3 separate regions of the Homo sapiens genome follow, and regions 1 and 2 are each linked to region 3. The links come from fine-mapping of genetic effects on gene expression. A gene starts in region 3. Each other region holds a variant in brackets. All regions are shown on one strand. Distances are between the middles of the regions. Region 1 overlaps ZNHIT3 (zinc finger HIT-type containing 3). Region 2 has its middle 23 kb from the start of ZNHIT3. Region 3 holds the start of GGNBP2 (gametogenetin binding protein 2).

What was found.
Region 1: its variant is fine-mapped to the expression of GGNBP2 in whole blood (TOPMed, PIP above 0.99).
Region 2: its variant is fine-mapped to the expression of GGNBP2 in whole blood (TOPMed, PIP above 0.99).

What each region holds. Positions count from the first base shown.
Region 1 is chr17:36,488,928-36,497,107 of GRCh38, forward strand. It overlaps ZNHIT3 (zinc finger HIT-type containing 3), which reads left to right. Exons shown (of 5, transcript NM_004773.4): 3 at 3,886-3,972; 4 at 4,999-5,079; 5 at 6,296-6,895. The coding sequence ends at 6,477. MYO19 (myosin XIX) reads right to left here. Exons shown (of 26, transcript NM_001163735.2): 26 at 6,709-7,479. The coding sequence ends at 7,324. It also overlaps the pseudogene RNA5SP439. Among named protein-coding and RNA genes, the nearest start is that of ZNHIT3, 6.3 kb to the left of the region's middle. The variant G/T (reference allele first, on the strand shown) is at 3,665.
Region 2 is chr17:36,459,153-36,467,332 of GRCh38, forward strand. No RefSeq gene overlaps it. Among named protein-coding and RNA genes, the nearest start is that of ZNHIT3, 23 kb to the right of the region's middle. The variant G/C (reference allele first, on the strand shown) is at 4,257.
Region 3 is chr17:36,541,453-36,549,632 of GRCh38, forward strand. GGNBP2 (gametogenetin binding protein 2) reads left to right here and starts at 3,467. Exons shown (of 14, transcript NM_024835.5): 1 at 3,467-3,645; 2 at 4,167-4,365. The coding sequence starts at 4,273. It also overlaps a transcript of MYO19 not described here.

The sequences.
Region 1 (8,180 bases), 53 kb before region 3:
CTGTAATTTTGTATCCATTAAGCAACTTCTCCCTAGCCCCCTACACTCTACTCTTCCTAGCCTCCAGTTACCACTATTCTGCTCTCTACTTCTGTGAAATCAACTTGCTTAGCATCCACATGTTAACAAGAACATCTTATGGTGCCTGGCTTGTTTCACTTAACATTATGTTCTTTGGGCTCATCCATGTTCCTGCAAGTGACAGGATTTCATGGTTTTTTATGGCTAATATCCAGTGTATATATGTACCGCATTTCTTTATCCATCTGTTGGTGGATCCTTAGGTTCATTCCTTATCTTGGCTGTTGTGACTAGCAGTAAACGCAGGAGTGCAGGTATCTCTTCGGCAGACTGATTTCATTTCCTTTGGATATATATACAGTAGTGGGATTGCTGGATCATATGGTAGTTCTATTCGTAGTTTTTTTTTAGGAACCTCTATGCTGTTTTCCATAATGACTATACTAATTTACATTCCCAATAACAGTGCAGTGTATAAGAGTTCCCTTTTCTCCACATCCTTGCCAACATGTTTTTTTCTTTTTGATAATAGCCATTCTTACTGTGGTGAGATGATACCTCATTGTGGTCTTGACTTGCATGTCCCTAATAATTAGTGATGTTGAACATTTTTTCATGTACTTGTTGGCCATTTATATGTCTTCTTTTGAGAAGTGTCTGTTTGGCTCATTTGCCCATTTTTTTTTTTTTTCTTTTTGAGACAGAGTCTTGCTCTTGTCGCCCGGGCTGGAGTACAGTGGCGCAGTCTCTGCTTACTGCAACCTCCGCTTCCAGGGTTCAGGTGATTCTCCTGCCTCAGCCTCCAAAGTAGCTGGGATTACAGGTGCCTGCTGGCTGATTTTTGTATTTTTAGTAGAGACAAGGTTTCACCATGTTGGCCAGGCTGGTCTTGAGCTCTTGACCTCAGGTGATCCACCTGCCTCGGCCTCCCAAAGGGCTGGGATTACAGGGGTGAGCCACCATGCCCGGCCCATTTGTCCACTTAATTTTTTTTTTTTTTTTTTTTTGGCTGTTGAGCTCCTTGTGTATTCTAGATATTAATCCTTTGTCAAGTGAATATTTTGCAAATATTTTCTCCCATCCTGTGGGTTGTCTCTTCATTCTATTGTTTCCTTTGTTGTACAGAAGCTTTTTTGTGTAATAGAATTCCATTTGCCTATTTTTGCTTTTCTTGCCTGTGTTTTTGAGATTTTATTCATAAAATCTTTGCCTAGACCAATGTCCTGAAGCATTTCCCCTGTGTTTTCTTGTAGTAGTTTCAGGTCTTACATTTAGGTCTTTAATCCATTTTGATATTTATATATGGTGACAGATAAGGATCTAGTTTCATTCTTCTGCATATGGTTATTCTTACAGTTATCCTATTTTTCCAGTACCATTTATTGAAGAGTGCTTTTTTCCCCAGTATATGCTCTTGGTGCCTTTGTGAAAAGTCAGTTGGCTGTAAATGTGTGAATTTATATCTGGGTTCTCTATTCTGTTCCATTGATCTATGTGTCTATTTTTATGCTAGTACCATGCTGTTTAGATATTATAGCTTTGTAGTATATTTCGAGGCCAAGTAGTGGTGATGCCTCCAGCTTTGTTCTGTTTGCTCAGGATTGCTTTGGCTATTGGGGGTCTTTTGTGGTTCCATATTAATTTTAGAATTTTTTTTTGACATTTCTGTGAACAGGATCATTGGTATTTTGATAGGGATTGCATTGACTCTAGATTACTTTGGGTAGTATGGTCATTTTAATATTTATTTTTCTTATTGGTGGATATTTACATTAATTTTGCCTTTGTTGCTGCTATAGGCAGTGTTAAAGTGGTATTTAATAAATAATTTTTATCAGAAATTTCTAATAGCCACATCTGTTGTACACTTTTCATTTGTCTTTTTTATTTTTTTGCAACAAAGTCTTGCTCTGTCACCCAGGCTGGAGTGCAGTGGTGCTCACTATAGCCTTGACTTCCTGGGCTCAGGCAGTCCTCCTACCTCAGCCTCCCAAGTAGTTGGGACTGCAGGCGTGTGCCACCATGCCTGGCTTATTTATTTTTAATTTTAATTTTTGTGGAGATGAAGTCTCACTGTATTGCCTGGGCTGGTCTTGAATTCCTGGGCTCAAGTGATCCTTCCACCTTGGCCTCCCAAAGCGTTGGGATTACAGACGTGAGCTACCCATGCTCAGCCTGTCATCTTTCTTGATTCCCATGAATATCTGCTGTGTTTGGCTTTTTCTTTCTTGATATTCTTTGGAGGCTGGGAAGATACCGCTCTGTGGTATTCTCTCCTCCCTTTCTCCCTTCGAAGTCCTAACCAGGCCTGACCCTGTTACAGCTTCTGAGGTCAGATGAGATAGGGTGCATTCAGGGTGGCTTAGCTGTAGACTCTCGTTTTCTTTTTTTTCCTTTTTTCGAGACAGGGTCTTGCTCTTTTGCCCAGGATGGAGTGCAGTGGTGTGATCACAGCTCATTGCACCCTTGGCCTCCTGGGCCCAAGTGATCCTCCCACCTTAGCCTCCTGAGTAACGGAGACAAACTTTATCTATTTTTCGTAGAGACAGGGTCTCACTGTATTGTCTAGGCTGGTCTTGGACTCCTGGGCTTAAGCAGTCCTCCTGCCTCAACCTCCCAAATTGCTGGGATTACAGGCAGGAGCCACTGTGCCCAGCTTCTCCTTCCTTTTGCTAGATCTCTCTCTTGAAATGTGGTCCTTGACTTTTATTCCTAGGTAGGTGATCTCTCTTTCACTTTAAACTTTTTTTTTTCTTGCTGACATCCAACTGTTTAGCTCCAGCCTCTTTTTGAGCACCTTAGACACAAATGTATTTTGGGGTCAGGTACAACCCAGAAAATTCACCTCTCCTTCAGTCCCTCCTGCTGTGTTCCTTACACATATAGCATAGCCGTAAAGTTAGACCCGGATTCCAAATCTGCCTCTGCTACTTACTAGCTGTGGACCCCAATGGACAAGTTTATTACAAGAAAATTTAATCCTTTCATCTGTAAGTGGAATTAACAGTCTCCATGTCATGGGGGCTTCGTAAAGGTTCATTGAGCCACTATGTATCTCACTGTGTACCTGGCACAGTGCTCGGCACTTAGTCACTGGCAGCTGTTGTAACTGCCACCTACATGACTAGAACCTTTCCGTAGCATATTGTCAAATCTACATTTTAAGTCTCTACAATCTGGTCCTGCCTTTATGTCCTCAGAACCCTTTCCTGTGACTTCATGCTCTGTTGATACTGTCACCCAGGCTGGAGTGCAGTGGCACAATCACAGCTCACTGCAGCCTTGACACACTGGGCTTAAGGGATCCTCCTGCCTCAGCCTCCCAAGTAGCTGAGACCACATGTGTGTACCACCATGCCTGGATGATTTTTTTTATTTTCTGTAGAGACATAGTCTTGCTAGGTTGCCCAGGCTGGTCTCAAACTCCTGGGCTCAAGTGATCCTCCCACCTTGGCCTCCGAATGTTAGGATTACAGGCGTGAGCCAGCACAGCTGGCCTTCTGTTGACTCTGTAAGTTCTTTGGTGGTTTTGCCCCTAGTTTTATCCCATCTGGTATCTGGTTTACAGCAGCTATTTCAAACACCTCAGTTAATTGTGGTGAGAATTTTGTAAGATTCGGCAGGGTAGGGAGGATGGGGACAG[G/T]TTCTTGGGGTGCATGAATGAGTCCTGCTTTCTCAGCCTGCTGGCGGTTTTCCTTAATCTCTCTCTTGCTTTGATCTCTCACTTCTTCCACATTCCTGGGCACCCACCCACATCCCTTACCCCAGACACTTGCTTCCTACCTAGATGCTACCTTGGTAGGGAGGTGCAGCCTTGTCGCTGAAATGGAGGTAATGTGGGCCTGGGATTTGTGTCTTTTTCAGAACAGTGCAACCCTGAAACTCGTCCTGTTGAGAAAAAAATAAGATCAGCTCTTCCTACCAAAACCGTAAAGCCTGTGGAAAACAAAGGTGGGTTGGTTGACTTCAAACAAATCTACAAGGGACTTCACATAGAATAAGTCGAAGGAAAAGGGGAGAGTGGGGCTGGTCAGGGAATCCAGAACAATAGCTTCATTGGGAAGGAACAGCTTCCTTAGCCTTGAGCATCAGGAGTGGGGCCATGTCATCATGGGTGATATTGAGGCAACAGCCTGAAAGCAGTATTCAGGAGAAGAAAAATGGGCAGAAGACAGAGATGAGAAAGGCCATGGCTGTGGTTTGGGGGTTTGCGGTGGGCCCTGCTGGCAGGAGCCTTCTCTAGCCCATAGCTGCTGGTCTCCCTCCATGAATCTGGCTGGGACTGTCAGTTCACCTGAACTCAGCCCAGGCAGGAGGCTTTCTTTGTCCTAGATCATCTCGCTGCTGCTGGGGGTTCAGAGCTCACAGCAGTAGTGGGCTGTCAACCCATCCGTCCAGCCATCTAAACGTTCTTTAATACCTCCTGGGTGTCAAGCACCATGCCAGGCTCTGAAAGCAGCCCCTCTGGTGCCACCAAAGAGGTATTGAACATTCACTCCAAAGGCATGGCCCATTTTTGCCCTTTGAGAAATTTCCAGGTTGGGTTCAGGCAATGCCAGCAGTTTCTGCCCATGCTGAAAGCACAGGAGATTCTACTTGGCTGGTTTTTACAGAGCATCCAGTTAATTGGCCCATCACAGGGTTGGAGCCATGTTGAGGTGGGGATGGGTATTAAGTTATTAGACAACCGGGGTCTAAGCCTAAAGACCACAGGACCACATATACAGTAAGGATGTGAACACTAGAGTGCATTTGTTAAAATCACCAATTCTTTCACTTAGCCTCCCTCTTCTAAAAAAGGAGTGTTAGTATAGTCACAGACTCCGGAGAAGAGGATTTTTGTCTGTACCTGCTTGAATACCCCTATCACTATCACATGTGCGTGCACACATTTTTATCCTGTTCAAGTAGTGGTTAAAATCTGGTGCCCAGGCCTCCTTTTTAGCCATGAGCCATTGACTGTTTTGTATTCCTTAGATGATGATGACTCTATAGCTGATTTTCTCAATAGTGATGAGGAAGAAGACAGAGTTTCTTTGCAGAATTTAAAGAATTTAGGTAAGTCTGTGCTATGCTTGTCAATCGTTGAGATACATTTACTGTGTTGTAAGGATTGTGATTTTTTAAAAAGTTTTTAATTTCTTGAATAAGTATGGCATGTAGGGCTCTTACTATCTAGCCACATAATCTGTAAACATACAGGGTTTCACACCTCCCAGCCTGCCCACACCATTCCTTCTGCCTGGAATCCTGCTGGTCTTGTGGGTTGGCAAAATTCTGCTCCTCCTTCAAGCCTTGGTTCAAGTTTTCTTCACTCAGCTAAGCTTTTCTTGACCTTTTGTGTCTCTTTCAGAATTAGGCACTTTTTTGGTTTCCCATAGCAACTTGGACTTAATAGTAATAAATCACTGTTACATTTCATGGTAATTTGTCTCTCACATACCGATTTGTACAGCAGGGACCTGTATTCCCAGATCCCCAGTGCTCAGCTCACAGTCCAGCCCTTAACACAAACTGGTTATCACATGATTTGATTTAGGGGGAAACAGGTGTTGCCATTTTTGTAGCACTGCTTATTCAGTCCTTACAACATTCTGTTACATGTGCATGGGGTCTGTTAATTTCATTCTTCCCATTTCACAGAATCATGTTAAAAGGTTATGTTTTGCACTTAGTCTCATGGTAATGATTAGTTAGACTGAGTTTGGAGATGAGCTAGTAATAGGTGTGAAAAATTTTACAGACTGTGAAGTACCATGCAGGTATTATTGTTGGTTCCCTGCTACTGGTGCTGCTGCATGCCAAATGGCATGCTTAGACATCATTCAGATTATTTCGTATAGCCGTCTTCACCACTGGCAACTTTTATGGCTAGAAAGAAAGAAAACATGCCAGCAGCTTAATGCTACTATTTGCTTTGTGATTGTGCTGATAAAGCATTTTTTTCTTAGCTGAAGTGGCACGAAGTTACAATATTTACAAAGATACCAAGAACTGGTATCTGTTACTGCATTTAATGCGGAAATAGTTTGATATGCTGGTCTTACCTTTCATTTTATAGAGGTGGGGTCTCGCCATGTTGCACAGGCTGGTCTTGAACTCCTGAGCTCAAGCAATCTGCCCACCTTGACCTCCCCAGTTGCTGGTATTACAGGCATGAGCCACCACACCTTGCTGATAGTTTTATTACACTTGAAATAGCTCTTCACTTTTCAGCCATCTCCATGTGTTTCCACTTGAACTCAGACTGGCTTTTTTTCTTGTTAATTTTTAGGGGAATCTGCAACATTAAGAAGCTTATTGCTCAATCCACACCTCAGGCAGTTGATGGTCAACCTCGATCAGGGAGAAGACAAAGCAAAGCTCATGAGAGCTTACATGCAAGAGCCTTTGTTTGTGGAGTTTGCAGACTGCTGTTTAGGAATTGTGGAGCCATCCCAGAATGAGGAGTCTTAAGATGGATTATTGTGCTGCTTGCTCAAGCGTGTGCTTGACTCCTGGAACCTGCCTGCTCCCTCTCCCAGACCAGCTAGTTTGGGGCTGGGGAGCTCAGGCAAAAGAGGTTTCCAGGATGCAGATTAGGTCATGCAGGCCTTTACCGGCATTGATGTGGCTCATGTTTCAGGCAGACTTGGGGTCCTTAAGGTGGCAAGTCCTTTATGGAGAGAAAACTTGACATTCAGATGATTGTTTTTAAATGTTTTACTTTTGGTACAGTTGATAGACATCATAAACGATATCAAGCTTACACTTCATATGGAGTTAAACTTGGTCAGTGTTAATAAAATCAAAACGTGATTCTACTGTACATTGCATTATTCATAATTTAATTGTTTGAAATTACATTAAATAAATCAACTAATTAAATACTAAAGTTTTGTTCCTTTTTAAAGGAAATAACCACAAGATTTTTCCCAGCCCAAATTCCAGCGCCAATTTTAGGCCAACTTTGGCTGTTTTCTTCCAAAAGTGCTTATGTGGAATTGGGATCCCCAGTGTAGTGACAGACAGTCATGACTGCTGCTGAGTTTGATCTGTGAAGGTAGTGAAATGTGGCCCTGATGTTTCTTAACCCTGATTTGGTAACTACCAGCCCTGACACCATCAGTGCTTGATGTAGCCTGGAACCCCAGGCCCACTGACGCACTGGGCACGGGGCTCTGGGTCGAAGGCTGGAGCCGTCACTGTTGTTCATGTGCATTTGGAGCACTGTGGGAATAGTCTGGCAGCTGTGTGCTGATTAAATGTCTTTGGCAAGGCAGGGGGCAGGAAAAGGCCTTGTGGAAACAAAGGCACCAAGGATCACCCCAGCCCAGTGAAGGCAGAAGAGGTCACGTGGATCAGCCTGTGTCTTTCCAGCAGAATCTGATTAAAGCCTGTAATGCTGTAGGGTGAAGGTTCAGGGCAGATGTCAGCATACCGCAGTGGAGACTTTCTGCAGTGAAACTTTATCGATCCCTAGAGGGGAGAGAGAGATGCAGCTTTAGCACTAGTTCCTGGGAGTGCCAGGGCCTAACAACCCCACAGAGCAGACGCTAAAAATGCAAGAAGGTATGGACAAGTACTAGTATTGGGGGCCACAGCAGGATTAAAATAGCATTACATCCACTCAGTGTGAGACAGATGAGGAAACCCTAGGAGGAGGCGCTCCCTAAGAGGAATGTCTGTCACATTCCTATGACTGCTTAAAGCCAGAAGGGCAAAACATTTACCCTTCTGTTTAGCAGGCCTGTGTGTTTTCATGGGAGACTTCATCCAGATTAAGGCCTATAGTTATTCCTCTGAATGGAAATTTGGTGTTTCCTTCTGCCTTGTCATTTCACTTACTCCTTGCTGTGACTCCATGCAGTAGGTTGAGTATTAGCCCATTTTATAGACAGGCTCCGAGAAAATGTGTCTTAGCCAAGATCATCCAGTGAATGGGGCAGAACCAGGATCCAGACCCTGGGGTTCTACCTCCCAGTGCAACATACTTTCACCTTTCCTCGGCCACTTTAATTCTATGAGGCCTGGCTTACTGGGGTGACTCACAAAGCCCTGAGTGACAATGACTTCCTGAGTGTGCTGGCTGACTTTTCCCTGGATGCTTATATAAAAACAGCTGGGCACGGTGGCTCACACCTGTAATCCCAGCACTTTGGGAGGGCAAGGCAGGCAGA
Region 2 (8,180 bases), 82 kb before region 3:
TGGATTTCTGTTTAGGGCATGCGTCAGACCCTTCCTTGAGCTACAGACATCGGAGTACAGGGCCCCGGCTCCCTTGTTTCTGCTCCACATACAGAATGGGTCCAGTAGCACTGAACCCAAATCTGGCATTATCTGGTCTACAAATACCCTCCCTCTCACTGCCCTGCCACCCCAGGTCTTGGAGGTACCAGAATACCCTATCATGTACTGGGAATCCCATGTGACTGGACTCATGATGTAGACCACACAAACCCAACCAAAGACCCCTTTCCGGCCATGCTGGGTCCCTGCCCACAAGGGGCAGGTTTCTGACTTGAGGTTGAGGGTAATCACCCAGGGTCGGCACAGGACATGAGGAAGGAGATGGAGCCTGGTGCCCCCACCTCAGACCCCAAGCCTCAGCTCCCTCCCTATAAAATGGCCTCCCAGTGGATTAAAAAGTACACATATAAAGCACTTGGTGCCAAGCATAGCAGATGCTCAGGGCACCTCAGAAGTTAACTGGGTTACTTATGAAAGAGGGTTTGCTGGAGCAGCCTGCTTGCCGCTCACCAGCATCCCTCTCATATCTGTTCCCATGGAGGTAGGGACAATGCTGAGGACTGGCTGGGCGAGGACAGAGGCTCCCGGGGTGGTGTGGGCGTCTGGTGGCAGCAACAGGGCTGCTGCAGGAGCATGTAGTGTGTGTCAAGTGGTAGTGGCACAGCTGCTCAGAGGGAACTGCCTGCCCGGCACTTCACTCTCATGCCCTGGCACTTCACTTTCATCATGAACTCATTCGTGCCTGTGCGCTGGATCTGCCATCATCCACATATGAGTTGAGCTCCCTTCCTTTGCCAGCCCTGGGTGAGGCACCAGGGGTAGGAGGGTGGGACAGGGAAATGACCAGGGCATCTCCCAGGCTTTCTGGAGCTCTCAGACCTCCCGCTTCTGTTTGGGCTGGCTGCCTCGTGTTCCTGCTATGAATTGTCATGCATGAGTGTTTCTGCCCCTTCATTTATGGGGTCCCCAGGCACTCCACTCCCACCCCATGACATCCCATTTTTCTGAGTCTCACAGCTTCTGCATTTTAGTTCACTTCTTTACGTTTGTGAGGTACATTCTCTGGAAGTTTCCTGGCAGAGGTACATGGAAGGTAAAGTTTTCAGACCCTGAACATCTAATGATATCTTTTTTCTACTCTTACATTTGATCAATATTTTGACTAGATATGTACTTCCATATGGAGATAGTTTTCCCTCCAACATTTGAAGTTTACTTCTGTATTCTTCCGGTGTTGCTGTGACAATATCTAGTCCCTAGGGGGTGGACTTCTTTTCCCCCAGAAGTTTTAGGATCTTTTGTTTATCCTGTAGGCATTTTTCAAAATTGCCAGTGCTGTGCTTTCTATGGTATTTTTTTCACGCATTATGTGGATATGTGGTATCAGTTCCTTCAGCTGGTAAACATATGCTCTTCCATTCTGGGGATTTACAAAAATTCGTTATAATAATTTCCTCCCTATTGTTTTCTCTTCCTAGAATTTCTACTAATACGAAGTTAATCAACTAACTCTTTTCGTCTCCTTCCTTCCTTCCTTTTCTTTTACTCCAATTCTCCTTCCCCTACCTCCAGCTAACTTCCTGGGAGATTTTTTCAACTTTATCCTCCAATCCTACTGAATTTTTATTAAACAGCTTAAATTATTTAAAACATTTTTCTTAAGAGATGGGGTCTCACTTGTTGCCCAGGCTGGTCTCAAGAGATCCTCCTACCTCAGCCTTCAGAAGCTCTGGGATTATAAGTGTGAGCCACCGCACCTGGCTAAACAGTTTAAATTCTAAAAGCTCTTTCTTTTTCTTAGACTAGTTCTTTCTTTCCATCAAATTGATTTTGTTTCTGTTTTTGTCTTTTTGAGACAGTCTTGCTCTGTCGCCCAGGCCGGAGTGCAGTGGCACAAACTTGGCTCACTGCAACCTCTACCTCCTGGGTTCAAGTGATTCTTGTGCCTCAGCCTCCCGAGTAGCTGGGATTACAGGACTGCCACCATGCCTGGCTAATTTTTGTATTTTTGGTAGAGATGGGGTTTCACCATGTTGGCCAAGCTGGTCTCGAACTCTTAGCCTCAAGTGATCCTTCTGCCTCGGCCTCCCAAAGTGCTGGGATTACAGGTATGAGCCACCACATCTGGCCTCAAAAAGGCTAACAATCTTTGACTATCTCTTCCTGTCTGGGGATGAGGCATTAAAAAGCTGCTCAGAAGTTCCAGCAGAAGGGGCTACTCCTAAGAGACACAGGACCAGAAAATACAGACTCAAAAGTAGGCCTTGGTGCGCTGGGGCTGCCCCTCATCCTCCACTGGGCCTTTGCATCTGTTCTAGGCTCACAGAGAGAGCAGAATGGGAAACGGGGACCATTCCAGGTGGTGTATGGAGGGTTGCATTTGCTCTGTGCACTGCCCAGTGTGATGTTCCTCAGCCTTACTGTAGGTCATCCAGGTGGTAGAATTATTCTGGTTTATACAGATGCTGAATTATTCTATTTGGCGGGAGCCTTGCCACCCTGGGCTTCAGGGAGACCCTCTCCCAGGGCCCCCTGGGTTTTTCCCATTCTAGCAGGCTTGCTGAATGCGTTTGGATTCACATTCTTCCCCAACAACTGCTGTCACAGCTCTGGATTGGCTACCGCAATGAGAAGGTAAAGCAACACTTTGTGTCTCACGACCTGAGGGCCCAGCAGGTGTGGCCGGCAGCCAAATCCCGACATCTGCACTTCCTCCAGGCTCCTGCCCCTCCCCACGGTGTGCCCAGCAGTCTCCTTTCCTCAGTGGATGCTGTTCATGTCCTTGCCATGGCTGCCAAGCCAGCCAAGAGGTAACATGTTGGTCCTCGGGCCACAGAAGCCCTCTTCTGTCCCTCCAGGAGGATTACTTTGTTAAGAGCCTGGAGTGGCTGTTTGTTAACTACCATAGTAACCATAGCAGTCTGGCTCTGAACAAGGGAACCCCATTAGCATCAGCTCCTTGATGGATGAGGTGGAGAGCAGGGGACAGGGAAGAGGATGTTGCTGAGAAGTTTGAAGAAGTTAGTCATTAGGAGTCTTGGTGACTGTCCCGTGCCCTCTCTGCCCTTCTGTCTCCCCTAATGTGTTCACTAATACCCACCTTTTCTGTCTCTTGGGGTCACTCTAATGTCCATGGTGACACTTGTTATTATCTATTGCCAGGGGACCCACAATGTGAGGACCATGAGGGAGGGGAGTTAGATCTTCCTGCCCCATGGTTGACAGTCCACCTCAACCATGGGGCAGAGCAGCCCCTCAAGGGGCTGAGCAGCACCATCTGTCTCAGACATCATCCAGGGTGTACCAGCAGGCACCCTAGAGAAGGAAGGGGGCCAGCTACAAGAGTCAAAAGCAACATGATTCAGTATGCAGCACAATCATTTTAAGAATCCTGATTCTGGGCTGGGCGAGGTGGCTCACGCCTGTAATCCCAGCACTTTGGGAGGCTGAGGCAGGTGGATCACTTGATGTCAGGAGTTGCAGACCAGCTTGGCCAACATGGCGAAACCCCATGTCTATCTAAAAACACAAAAATTAGCTGGGCATGGTGGTGGGCACCTGTAATCCCAGCTACTTGGGAGGCTGAGGTAGGAGAATCACTTGAATCCGTGGGATGGAGGTTGCAGTGAGCCAAGATCATGCCACTGCACTCCAGCCTGGGTGACAGAGTGAGACTCCATCTCAAAAAAGGAAAGAAAGAAAGGAAGGAAGGAAGGAAGGAAGGAAGGAAGGAAGGAAGGAAGGAAGGAAGGAAGAAAGAAAGAAAGAAAGAGAAAGAAAGAAAGAGAAAGAAAAGAAAAGAAAGAAAGAAAGAAAGAAAGAAAGAAAGAAAGAAAGAAAGAAAGAAAAGAAAAGAATCCTGTTCTGGGACAGCTCAACAGCCCTGAGGCCACCACCTGCTCTTTGCCATAGTGTGAACTCATCCCTGACACAGAGCCCAGTCCCCTGGGGCCCTGCTCACGGGGTCTAGCCAGAATGCTCTCCACAGCTCGAAATGGAACGGCCTAGCAGTTGGAGATGCCAGACGTGAGTTATTGAACACATCTGCCGAGACCAGAGACCAGGACACGACATTTGTATCTACCAAATGAGTGCTGGCAGCTAGCTCTGCTCCCCTGGAACATCCTCTCAAAACCCTTTTGCCTTGACTATTATCTCATCTCTCTCCTGGCCTGCACTGATCCTTGGCCGACTCTAAGAAGTCACCCGTGGGG[G/C]CCTGGGGCAAGACAGGTCATGGTTCTGGGCACCAGCACTGCCATCTGGCTGCTTCTTCTGGCCTCTCTTTGCTGGACTAGTGCCTGGCCCAATATCATGCCATCATGATCACGCTCAACTCGAGGGATATCATTTACTCCTTCAAGGGCAAGATTCTAGACCCCTCACTGCAGAGCCCTTCACTGGGGACACCCGGTCTTCTTTGCCTGCTTGGACATTGAGGGTGGAGGGAGGAAGGGGTTGTGGGCATCCATAGAAGCTGTGGGGGGCATCCAGAAATAAGGGAGAGAGGCATCTTCACTGCTGGCGGTGTGCGGGACCAATTCCAGGGATTGTCTGACTGCGCTCCCCCCCACCACCCCATAGGTAGCAGGGTCTGCTGGGCTTGGATGCCAGTGGGAAGAATGCGTTCTTCGAGAGTGAGTGGACCCTCCTCTGGGCTCACTGGAGGGGACGGGTCTGGAGCAGGCAGAGTGAGCCGCTGCTTGCGGGATCCGGGATGGAGCTCAGGAATGGAGCTCCACACTCTCCCAGCTGCCTGGCCCGGGACAAGCATTGGCCCTTTCTGGGCCTCCTCAGGAATCTCCAACCTCCGAGGCGATTCTAGTTTAAGCCTGATGAGGCAGACGTGCATCCGGGCGGATGATTAGCCGGTGTGGGCGCGGCCTGGAGCGGGCCCAGGCTGGGGAGTGGCGGCTGCACGCGGTGACGACTGTGTGTTCGCTGAGTCAGGGCCCGGAGCGCTTCAGCACCGCGGCTTGGACAGCGCCCCGGGGCAAGCGGGTGGCGCTCTCCCTACAGGGACAAATGACCCCAGGGCCGGCATTTCTGACCTAGAGAACGGGCCTGGATTGCTCTGGCGGGTTCTGAGCCTGGGGTTGGGGGCGGGTGGGGAGCGGACGAAGTGGGGGCGGCCTTTGGAGACGATGGCAATTTACCGCCTTAGGCGGGCAAGCGCACGAGTCCCGGGAACCCTAAACAGGTTGGGGTGCCCCTTGGGGTCTAGATGAGGCCCGGGCTTGCGATAAAGCGTGGCGGCGTCTAGACATAACGTCCCATCTCCTGAACCCGTCAAGGCCGGTGGCACCCAACCTGGCGGGCTCATCTAGGACCAGTCCACACCCAAGGCCCCAAGACCCAAAACCTCCTGGGCTGGGTCTGCCTGGCTAGGGGCCCCTCATCCTGGGCTCTACTCTTTTGGCGCAGAGGCCATGTGGCAGGCCCCTGGTCTGCGCCCTGCTCAGCTTCCCCTCCCCACCCCGAAAAGTGGAGAGCCCCACGGCTTCCCCAGAAAAGCAGTCTGCTCCCCGCGCCCCAGCGCAGCTCGTTTACTATGGGTCAGGAGAGGAATCCCGCCTTTTTTCCGCAGCGAGGATGGCCTGGGCTCCTGCGCGAAGCGAGGCTCCGTCCTGGAGAGGCTCAGTGACCCGGCAGTGGCGCCGATCCGGGTTAGCCAGGGCCGCGCTGGGACCCGCGGAGTCGCGTGATGCAAACGGGAAGGCGGGAGCAACCCAGCTCCTTCCCGGTGCTGCCTGGCTGCTGCATAAGCCGCCCTTTCTTCCCTGACAAACACTGTCCAGATGGGCAACAGGTCCGTGTCTCCTTTGGCAGCCACTGTCTCCAGAAAGGCATTGGGCAGTTAAGGTGGTCAGAGCCCTCAGGTAAATCCTCCCTCTCCAGGAGTCAGCCCTTCCAGCTGCGGGAGGGCAGGTAGTGGGATGCGGGACCTTCGCAGGGCTGGGAGATGTCATCAACTTTTACCCTCACATGGGGAGAGTGGGAGTGCTGGGCCTGGCGGTCCTCTTACGTCCTTACTGTGCAGCTTGGGATTCTAGGTTGGAAGGAGTCACCCTACTGCTCAGTCAGCTCTATTTGCCACCTGCCCAAGAAGACCCATGGGAATGGAGGCTACAAGACACTCTAGGGCACAGTGACAAGGAGGGATTGATTCCAAGACTCCTTGGAAGAACCAGATCCCTGAGCTTCTCAACAAAACAAGGGGCCACCTCTGGTCTTTGCCCTCCAAAGGGGAAGGCAGGAAAATTGTTAGAGGCAGATTGGCAGGAGGGGCCTGTGGAGTGTGCAGGGGGCCAGAGCCAGTTCCTAGAAGTTGAGCAAGGGGATATGGGCACCAATGCACACAACTGTGCACTGGGGGCCTCTGTCTCCTATCCCCTGGTCCCAAGGATGTCATGATGGTTTGACCTGTCTTCTAGGACATTCTCTAACTAGGGCAGCAGCCATGCCTGTTGACCTGGTGAAACAACTCCAGCCCTGGTACCCTGTGACATGACCCAGGAGGTGGTGACCATATGTGGTAAGTGAGTTGGGAAGCAGAGTGGAGGATGAAGAGGACCACCACAGGCGCCAAAACAGCAGTCTCAGTGCAGGGGACCGGGCTCTGGGAAGCAAGGGGCTGTGGTCCTCAGTGATGCTTCTCGGCTCCCAGCTAGAGCTGCAGGAAGTTGTGGACAAATTCAGCCAAGGACTCTGAAACTCAGGTGAAATAAATAAAGAGAGAGAGAGAGAAAGAGAGAGAGAGAGAGAGAGAGGAAGGGAGGAAGACAGAGAGAGGCAGAGGCAGAGACAGAAAGAAAGAATTTCAAAAGATGCAGGCGAATCAGCCCTCCTTCTGCCCCCTGAGCCTGTGTCCTGGACTGAGTCTGAGATGGGAGGTGAGACGCTGCTGGGCCTCCCACCAATCTTAGTTTCTGTAGGTATTTCTCCAAAGTATGGGTTGGTTGAGGGTTGGTTTAAAACATGTTTCTGGCTGGGCATGGTGGCTCAGGCCTGTAATCCCAGCATTCTGGGAGGCTGAGGCAGGCAGATCACTTGAGCCCAGGAGTTGAAGACCAGCTTGGGCAACAAGGTGAAATCCCGTCTCTACAAAAAATATAAAAAATTAGCCAGGCGTGGTGGTGCATGCCTGCAGTCCCAGCTACTCAGAAGGCTGAGGTGGGAGGATGGCTTGAGCCCAGAGGGTGGAGGCTGCAGTGAGCCTAGTCTGGGTGACAGAGTGAGACTCTGTTTCAAAAAAACAACAAAACAAAAAAACCGCAATGTAGTTTCTGACTTTCATGCTGACTGTAGAACTTAACTTTTATGAAGAAACATAATATATTTCAGAACTTTATAGCAACTCTGGTGGCACTGCAGAGTCAGGTCATTCTTCCTGGACTTCTGTCCACTTCCATTATGGGATGTCTCCACTGAGCGTTGCCTACATCATCTCTGAATTTGAGGCCTAAAGTGTGACCAGATTTAATCAAATCCTGCTTGGAAAATATAGGCCCATTCAATGGTGATCCATTCTGGCTAAAGACTTTTTTTTTTTTTTTTTTTTTTTTTTTGAGACGGAGTCTCGCTCTGTCGCCCAGGCTGGAGTGCAGTGGCACAATCATGGCTCACTGCACGTGATCCTCCTCTGCCTCCCAGTGTCAAATTATCCTCCCACCTCAGCCTCCCAAGTAGTTGGGACTGCAGGTACACACCACCACACTCAGCTAATTTTTATATATTTTTTGTAAAGACGGGGTTTTGCCATGTTGCCCAGGCTGGTCTCTAACTCCTGGGCCCAAGTGATCCTCCTGCTTTGGCCTCCCAAACTTCTAGGATTACAGTCATGAGCCACTGCACCTAGACTAGAATCTCTTTGACTGTTTAAATGAATTACAAGATAATTGGCATTTTTAGTACATAGGACTAACATTCCATCATTTATGTACTCTTTAAAGTTTTTCAAATTGTTGTATAATTTCCCCCACAAAGTTTTCGGATAGCAATCTTACAGATTCCCCTGAGAATGTTGGAAGACAATGGTGGGACTACCCAGGCAAAGCCAGAATAAAATAAGGTTTACAATTCTGGCTGAGAAAGGAAGTAGGATTAGGCATGTAGTTAAAAGGGAACCAAATTTTGGTATT
Region 3 (8,180 bases):
TTTCATTTTTTTTAAACCTAGGTAGCCTGGAGAACAGATAGATCTCATTTATGCCTGCATTTTGTGGCTAGCGTCTCACACATTTGGACCTAAGAAAAAGAATGGTAGTTTGCTGATAATTTATTACAGCTCCGTCCCTCCAACTGTTCTTTATTAGGTACCAGCAAAATGTGTTCTGCTGTTGATTGCCTTTACTTTCCTGGCCTTTCAAATCCTTTGAACTTGCATTTCACAATGCCAATATCAAAATGAAATAATAGGCAACAGACAACTGTCTTTTAATGTAGCAATTATATATTTCGTCAATTAGAGGTTTGCTCTCTAAAAGCAGATACTTTTCATTTTAAAGTACATAGGATAATTCTCAAGAAGTATTTGCTGCAGTACTGGTGGTTATGGCTAAAAATAGAGCAATAGTGAAAATAAAAATAAGTGCCTACTCTAAAACCAGGAAGATGCACAGTGAAAACTTTGAAAAATTATTTTGCCATGAAATAATTTTCTAAGCGTTTTCCTTGGGATATTGATTTTATTGTATCGATTGTATTATATTGTATGGTATTAGATTAGATTAGATTGGATTGGATTTATAGCACCCAGGCTACCTCCTTGAGAAACAGCAACTTACCTAGCAAATCCACCTTTTTCGCCTTTAAGAATACGTTTTCATTGAATTCCTATTTGTCCAAAGATACTAAGTATGCCCGGTGGACCTAAGAGACAAACCCAAATTAGGGAAAGTAAGCTCAGATGGAAAGAGACCTTTGGGATTTCATTTTATTATGTTTTATATATGTTTTAATACCTTTTCACAGATTTAAATCCCCAGGGTGAATACTCCCTTCTTTGTTAGTACCTGGCGTGTGTTCAGTAGTCAAAGTAATTAAAATTAGCACCTATATAATGAGCTTGTCATTTTTAATGTTCTTTACCAACCAGAATCCTAATGAAGTCTAAAAGGTTTAGGCTGGGCACGTTGGCTCACGCCTGTAATCCCAGCACTTTGGGAGGCCGAGGCGGGCGGATCAAGAGGTCAGGAGATCAAGACCATCCTGGCTGACACGATGAAACCCCGTCTCTAATAAAAACACAAAAAATTAGCTGGGCGTGGTGGCAGGCGCCTGTAGTCCCAGCTACTCGGGAGGCTGAGGCAGGAGAATGGCATGAACCCGGGAGGCGGAGCTTGCAGTGAGCCGAGATAGCGCCACTGCACTCCAGCCTGGGCGACAGAGTGAGACTCCGTCTCAAAAAAAAAAAAAAGGTTTAAAGTGGGTACATTAATTGATGTACCACTGTAGGAGCACCTCTAGATACTGAAGGCCACAGTATCTTGGCTCACTGCAACTTCCGCCTTCCCGGTTCAAGCGATTCTTCTGCCTCAGCCTCCGGAGTAGCTGGAATTAAAAGTGCTCGCCACCACGCCCAGCTGATTTTTGTATTTTTAGTAGAGACAGGTTTTCTCCATGTTGCCCAGGCTCGTCTCGAACTCCTGACCTCAAGTGACCCGCCCGCCTTGGCCTCCCAAAGTCTTGGGATTACAGGTGTTAGCCGCCGCCCCCGTCCTGGTTTTTGTTTTGTTTTTTACATAAAACGCAAGATTCTCTAAAAATGTCCAAATTTTGGCTATGTATATGAACATCATACATACGTATTAGATTCAAGCTAATACTCACTCTTCTACTCTGCTAACATGGCCAGAAGACATAAAAAAAATTTTTTTTTGAGACGTAGTTTCACTCGTCGCCCAGGCCGGAGCACAATGGCGCGATCTCGGATCATTGCAACCTCTGCCTCCCGGGTTCAAGCGATTCTCTTGCCTCAGCCTCCCGAGTAGCTGGGATAACAGGCGTGCGCCACCACGCTCGGCTAATTTTGTATTTTTAGTAGAGACTGGGTTTCACCATGTTGGTCAGGCCAGTCTCGAACTCCTGACCTCAAGTAATCCACCCACCTCGCCTCCTAAAGTGCTGGGATTACCGGCGTGAGCCATGACCCCGGCCCAGAAGACATAAATATTTGCCGGGTAATGACACCTTCGGGAATGAACAATGGTTCTTCGTTTATTATGTCACCGACCCTAACAATGACCACACAATGTACTAAGTCAACATGGCTAAGGGTGCACTATGGGTTATTTGTTGTGAATCTCTAAGACTCCATGTGATAACCAAAATACTTTATTTTGTTTTGAGATGGAGTTTCGCTCTTGTTGCCCAGGCTGCAGTGCAATGGCGCGATCTGGGCTCACTGCAACCTCCGCCTCCCGGGTTCAAGTGATTGTCCCGTCTCAGCCTCCCTAGTAGCTGGGATTACAGGTACATGCCACCACGCCCGGCTAATTTTTGTATTTTTAGTAGAGACGGGGGTTTCATCATATTGGTCAGGCTGGTCTCAAACTCCTGACCCTCAGGTGATCCACCCACCTCGGCCTCCCAAAGTGCTGGGATTACAGGCGTGAGCCACCATGCCCGACCCAAAATACTTTTTTTAAAGGTATCACAGCTCCAGGAAATAGAGCAGTAAATTGATCTGTCCTTCAGATCACCAGGACTTTCATAGGCTAAATATCTTCACAACAGACCTCCAAAACCTTCAAGGTCAGAACTGAACACACGGTGGCGAGAGGAACTGTCTTCACAGCAGCTCTGCTTCCTCGGAGACGGCCAGAGGGAAAGGCCGTTGGCCAGTGCCAGTACTTCGCCCAAGGGAGTACCTGCTCACATTAACCCAGCCCAAGAAGTTCCTTTGGCCAAGACGCACACACACACACCACTGTCCGGTTTTCTATTTCCTTCCAGTGTAACGACAACCACAAGCTATCAGCACTTCACTATTTGCTGTCCCCTCAGCGGGATCGGGATGCAGCTACGCAGCGGGCCCCTGGCGAGCCGCGGTGTCAGGGCCCTTTTCTCCTCTTCCCACCGTGGGAAGCGAATTCAGTGGCGTCAAGGGCCAAGAGCCAGACCTGAGTTTGTCTCTCACCCCCCGATGCTCGTCTCCCTTTTCTCACTGCCTTCCGCCCCCTCTGATCTCGACTTCTCGCAACCTATCCAGGTCCTCTCTGGGCCTCTGCCCTGAGTCAGCCCCGAATCAGACGGGCTTGACTCGCTGAAAGAATTCCCCTTTGAGAGGAGGCAGATTCCCCTCTACATAGACGACACCCTGACGTCGAGGGGCTTGCCCCTCGTCCGTGGGGAAGCCTTCCCGGCCCGCGGCTGGGGCCTGAGGTTGGGCCGATCACCCCTCCTACCAGTCCTAGTTCGGGTCTAGCGGAATGGCTGGGCTCCGAGAAGGGCGCCGGGCCCACGGGCGGGACGGCCAGGGCGGCCCCGCACCCTCTGGGCGCAAATTTCTCCAGCGGGGTCCCCAGCGCGGCCAGCCCCAGTCTCGCGAGAGGACGTGGGTCCCGCCCGGCGCCCGACCCCGCCCGGCCCCACCTTCCCCTCGTCCCCCGCCCTCCTTCTTCCACTCCCCGCGGCGCGAGCGGCTGACTGCCCGTAGAGGAAACGACATTCGGAGCTGCGCTCCCGCCCACGCCGGCCCTGACGCGGGCCTCGTCAGCCAGTAACAGGGAGCAGAGGTGGGAGTTAGCGAGGCGACCACGAAAACGGTGAAGGTCGGAACCGACAGCCTCCTCCGAGAAGGGTGAGGAAAGGGTCTGAGCCTCCCCGTTCCCTGGACTCCGCAGAGCCGCTGCGGGGTCGATCCCTCCCAGGGGCGGGGTCGCGCTGGGCAACTGCAGTCCTGGGGCCGACTGGGCGGGGTGCGCCCAGAAGCGGGGAGAAGGGGTCAGTTGGGGGCAGAGGGCACCCGGGCGGCGGGCGGCGGGGAACAGGCTGCGGGGCCCAGGCCAGGGGTGGGGTCCTGGGGCCGGGACTCCTGCAGCGGGCGGGGAAGCCCCCGGCAGGCCGGTCCCTTCCGCCTCTCCTTTGGACCCTGACTGGAGGCCGGCGGGCGGGCGGGCGGGCGGGAGAGAGGGAGGGAGCGCGGCGCGAGGGGGGCGGGTCCCGGCGGCGCTGGGCGCTGATTGGCTGAGCGTGTGTGGAATCGGGTGATGGGAAACGCAGCCCGGCTCTCCCGTACCCTCCCGCTCCGCTCCCTGCCCCCCGTGGCGAATGTGCTGCGCAGCGGCGGGTGCTTACGCTCGCGGGGTTTGGCTGTTGCAGGCAGGAGCTGGGAGGAGGCGGCAGCGGCGGCGGCAGAAACAGCAGCGGCGGCGGCGGCGGCAGCTGGGAGGAGGTGGTGACGGTGGCAACGGCAGCGTCGGGGACGATGGCGCGACTCGTGGCAGTGTGCAGGGACGGGGAGGAGGAGTTCCCCTTCGAGAGGAGGCAGATTCCCCTCTACATAGACGACACCCTGACGGTGAGCGGGCCGGGCCGGGCTGGGCCCGCCGCTCCCCTGGCAGCTGTTTCCCCTCCTCCCCCTCCCCCAGGCCGAGCGCTGCGCACTGGAGAAAGAGTGTGTTGCAACTCCTAGGCGAGGCCTTCTCTTCAGCAGGCCCCACAAACTCGCCTTTGCAGTGGGTGGCTCGGTAACCTCTGTCGGCCCCAAGCCCAGAGCTCCGTACGCACTCCCTCTCTCCAGATTTTCCTTCTTTTGGAACCTTATTCCTTGACCCTTTCCCTTTAGGAGACGCTGCTTTTGTCAAAGCACACATCTCAGAGAGGGGTTGAAGGATCTTGGGCGTTTAGGGCCTACCCCATACAGAAACCACCTACCCTCGGGGAGGCTTAATTACCTGGTAATGTCGCAGCTGCACTGCTACCTGTGTATTTTCTGTTTTAATACTGGTAGCTCTCACCACATAAGCTTAATTACTGGGGGCAGAGTGACATGCTCGTGCACAGTCAAGATTCCACTAAAATGGTTTGATTTCGTTGTAAATAGTCTCGTATTGCCTAATGCATTAAAACTCTTGAAATGATTGTATTGCTAGGCCCTTTCTTCAAAACGGGCTTTCTTCGCATTATTTAGTTTACAGGTGGACTTTTTTTTTTTTAAAGGAAGCCAAATTATTGAATGTGTAAGAGTACTATAAAAAGCTGATTGCTCATCTTGAGTGTCAAGACCCAGTTCCGGGTACTTTATTCTTTAGATTTGGTAGTGTAGCATTATCGACCCTCTGCCCTATGTTGCTGTACTGTTTCCTTTAAAAGGAAATGGCTGAAATTTGAATTGAATCTGAACAGGAAATGAGTGCAGTTGCTTGCCACTTAAGAAATGAAATTAACCTTTTCCGAATATCTTTTGAAATCTGCGTTTTGATGATGCTGAAGCTTTGGATTATACATTTGCTTATTTCGATAAGGTGCACCTAAGTCTCTTCATCTCATCAGTATTCTTTTGCTATCAAAGGCAGTTGATCAGTTTTGTTCCTCAATATTTTTTTTTGCAAATATCTACCGAAGTTTTTTCAAATTTTATGTAAAATGCAAGTCATTGTAGAGATGCCAGTCTATGCCTTTATGCTTGCCAGTCTCAATTAAGACTTGATTGAGCTGCAGTACTTTAAAAAGGATTAGAAGAGCTATTGAATGACTTAATTTATTAGAAGTTTTTAAGTGACAGCATTTCTAATTATTCAAGTGCATTTATTTTTCATGAAAAAAGGTAGAATGATTTGTTCTGACATAAAGTAAATAGTGTTGATGCATTAGAAATTGTGTGTCTTGATTATGATTTCTGTACTTTTTGCATTAGAAGTATAATGGACTTGTATTTTTAAATAGTTGAAACTAGCACTGTGATCATATTAAATAATGCATTTCTCAGTTTGGACTTCAGATAGGGATTCATTTGTTGATATTTTCTTTCTTCTCTCCCCTGCTAACATAAACACTTTTCTGAAGCATATAGTTATGATATCAGCCTTTAAGGTTTATTGTCCCACAATGGCTGTGGAGTTAAAAAAAAAAATTCAGTGAGTTTGGATATAAGATTATTATTTAATGAATAATCATAACATAGGAAAACATATCAAAACATAGGGAAAACCAACATAAATAGTCTTCAAAAGACACTAGTTCTTGGTATATTCACATAACCACCTTTGTGAATGCAGCACATTAATACATCTGTCATATAGCACTTTAAAATGGCCAACTTTTTAAGTGCTTTTATACTGTATTCTCTCCACAATGATGTGACTTTCCAAAATTTTCCACTGAAAAAGATGTAACCTTGCAATGTGGTTTAGTATGGAACTTACTTTGCACTGTATCTGGCGGTTGAATTTTGCTTTTATTGTACTGTGGACTTGTGACTAAGGCAAATAAAACTTAAGCTCACTTAATTTAAATATCTCAAAATAACATTTAGGAAAAGGTGCAGTTTTTCTTTGCTTCAGAATGGGTTTTTATCACAAAGGAATGAGTGAGACATTTATTTGTGCTGGGACTTCTGCACAGTCATTGAATGCTGTGAGTGAATGTTAGTGAAAATTCTTGTCAAGGGAAACAAGTTTCTTTCAGGATATTCTACCAAATACTACTGAAAGGGAGAATGCAGAGCAAAACACCTGTTGGGAGAGAAGGGGAAAAGGGAAGAGGGAAGGAAGATGCCCCTATCAGAGTTTTATGCTCTGCATTGTTCCTTTGATAGATGGCAGTGGATGCCTGAAGTTAACCTTAGGTTTTGTCTTTGTCCCTAGGGTCTGTAGGTAATGCACTGAGGAAACATTGTTTGAACTTATTTCAAATAGTAGTCTTAGGATTTTGATAGTAGCTAAATGTTGCAATATAGTTACAATGTTTACAGGCAGTTGCAGACTTTATCATTTTAGTTGGGATGCTGAAACTTTACCCTTAGTTAAACTGGCAGTTGTAATTTGGACTTGTAAAATGAAATTAACAAACTTGTATGTAAAGAAGTAGCCTTAGGCTGGGTTTGGTGGCTCACGCTTGTAATCCCAGCACTTTGGGAGGCTGAGGCAGGTGGATTACTGGAGGTCAGGAATTCAAGACCAGCCTGGCCAACATGGCAAAACCCCGTCTCTACTAAAAATACAAAAATTAGCCAGACATAGTGGTGGGTGCCTGTAATCCCAGCTACTCAGGAGGCTGAGGCAGGAGAATCCTATGAACCCGGGAGGTGGAGGTTGCGGTGAGCCGAGATCGCACCACTGCACTCCAGCCTGGGCAACAAGAGCAAGACTCTGTCTCAAAAAAAAAAAAAAAAAAAAAAAAAAAAAAAAAAAAAGTAGCCTTAGGCCCGGTGCTGTGGCTCATGCCTGTAATCCTAGCACTTTGGGAGGCCGAGGCTGGCAGATTGCCTGAGCTCAGGAGTTTGAGACCAGCCTGGGCAATGTGGTAAAAACCTGTCTCTACTGAAATACAAAAAAATCAGTGGGTGTGGTAGAGTGTGCCTGTAGACCCAGCTACTGATGAGACTGAGGCAAGAGAATTGATTGAACCCCCAGAGGCGGAGGTTGCAGTGAGCCAAGATTGCGCCACTGCACTCCAGCCTGGGAGACAAAGTGAAACTCCGTTTCAAAAAAAAAAATAGCCTCTTCTTTTATGTGATATGTTGTGTCCATGTTTAGAAGATTCCCATGGTAGTTCAGTGAGTTTGAACACCTGAGTATAGGATAGGGCTGATGTAGGTGTACTTGAGAAAATTCCAAATAAGTTGGTGGAATGGTGAAATATTTAAGAAAGTTTTATACTCTGGCTAAAATGTTGTTCAGTGTTACTACAATTATAAAATAACAGATAGAATACATATTTGATTTTAGAGAAATCTGAAGAATTAAAGTTTTTTTTTTTTTGAGACACAGTCTCGCTCTGTCGCCCAGGCTGGAGTACAGTGGCCTGATCTTGGCTCACTGCAACCTCTGCCTCTCAGGCTCAAGTGATTCTCCTGCCTCAGCCTCCTGAGTAGCTGGGATTACAAGTGCGTGTCACCACGCCCAGCTAATTTTTTTGTATTTTTAGAAGAGATGGGGGTTTCCCTATGTTGGCCAGGCTGGTCTTGAACTCCTGACCTCAGGTCATCTGTCCGCCTCGGCCTCCCAAAGTGCTGGGATTACAGGTGTGAGCCACCACACCCGGCCAAAATATATATTCCTTCTAAAATCTTGAAAAATAACTACAAAACAAATTACCCTTAGTCATGCTTCTCAGGGATAAGCACATTTGGTGTAATTTCAGTCCTAGACACACAGATACAGTTAATATATT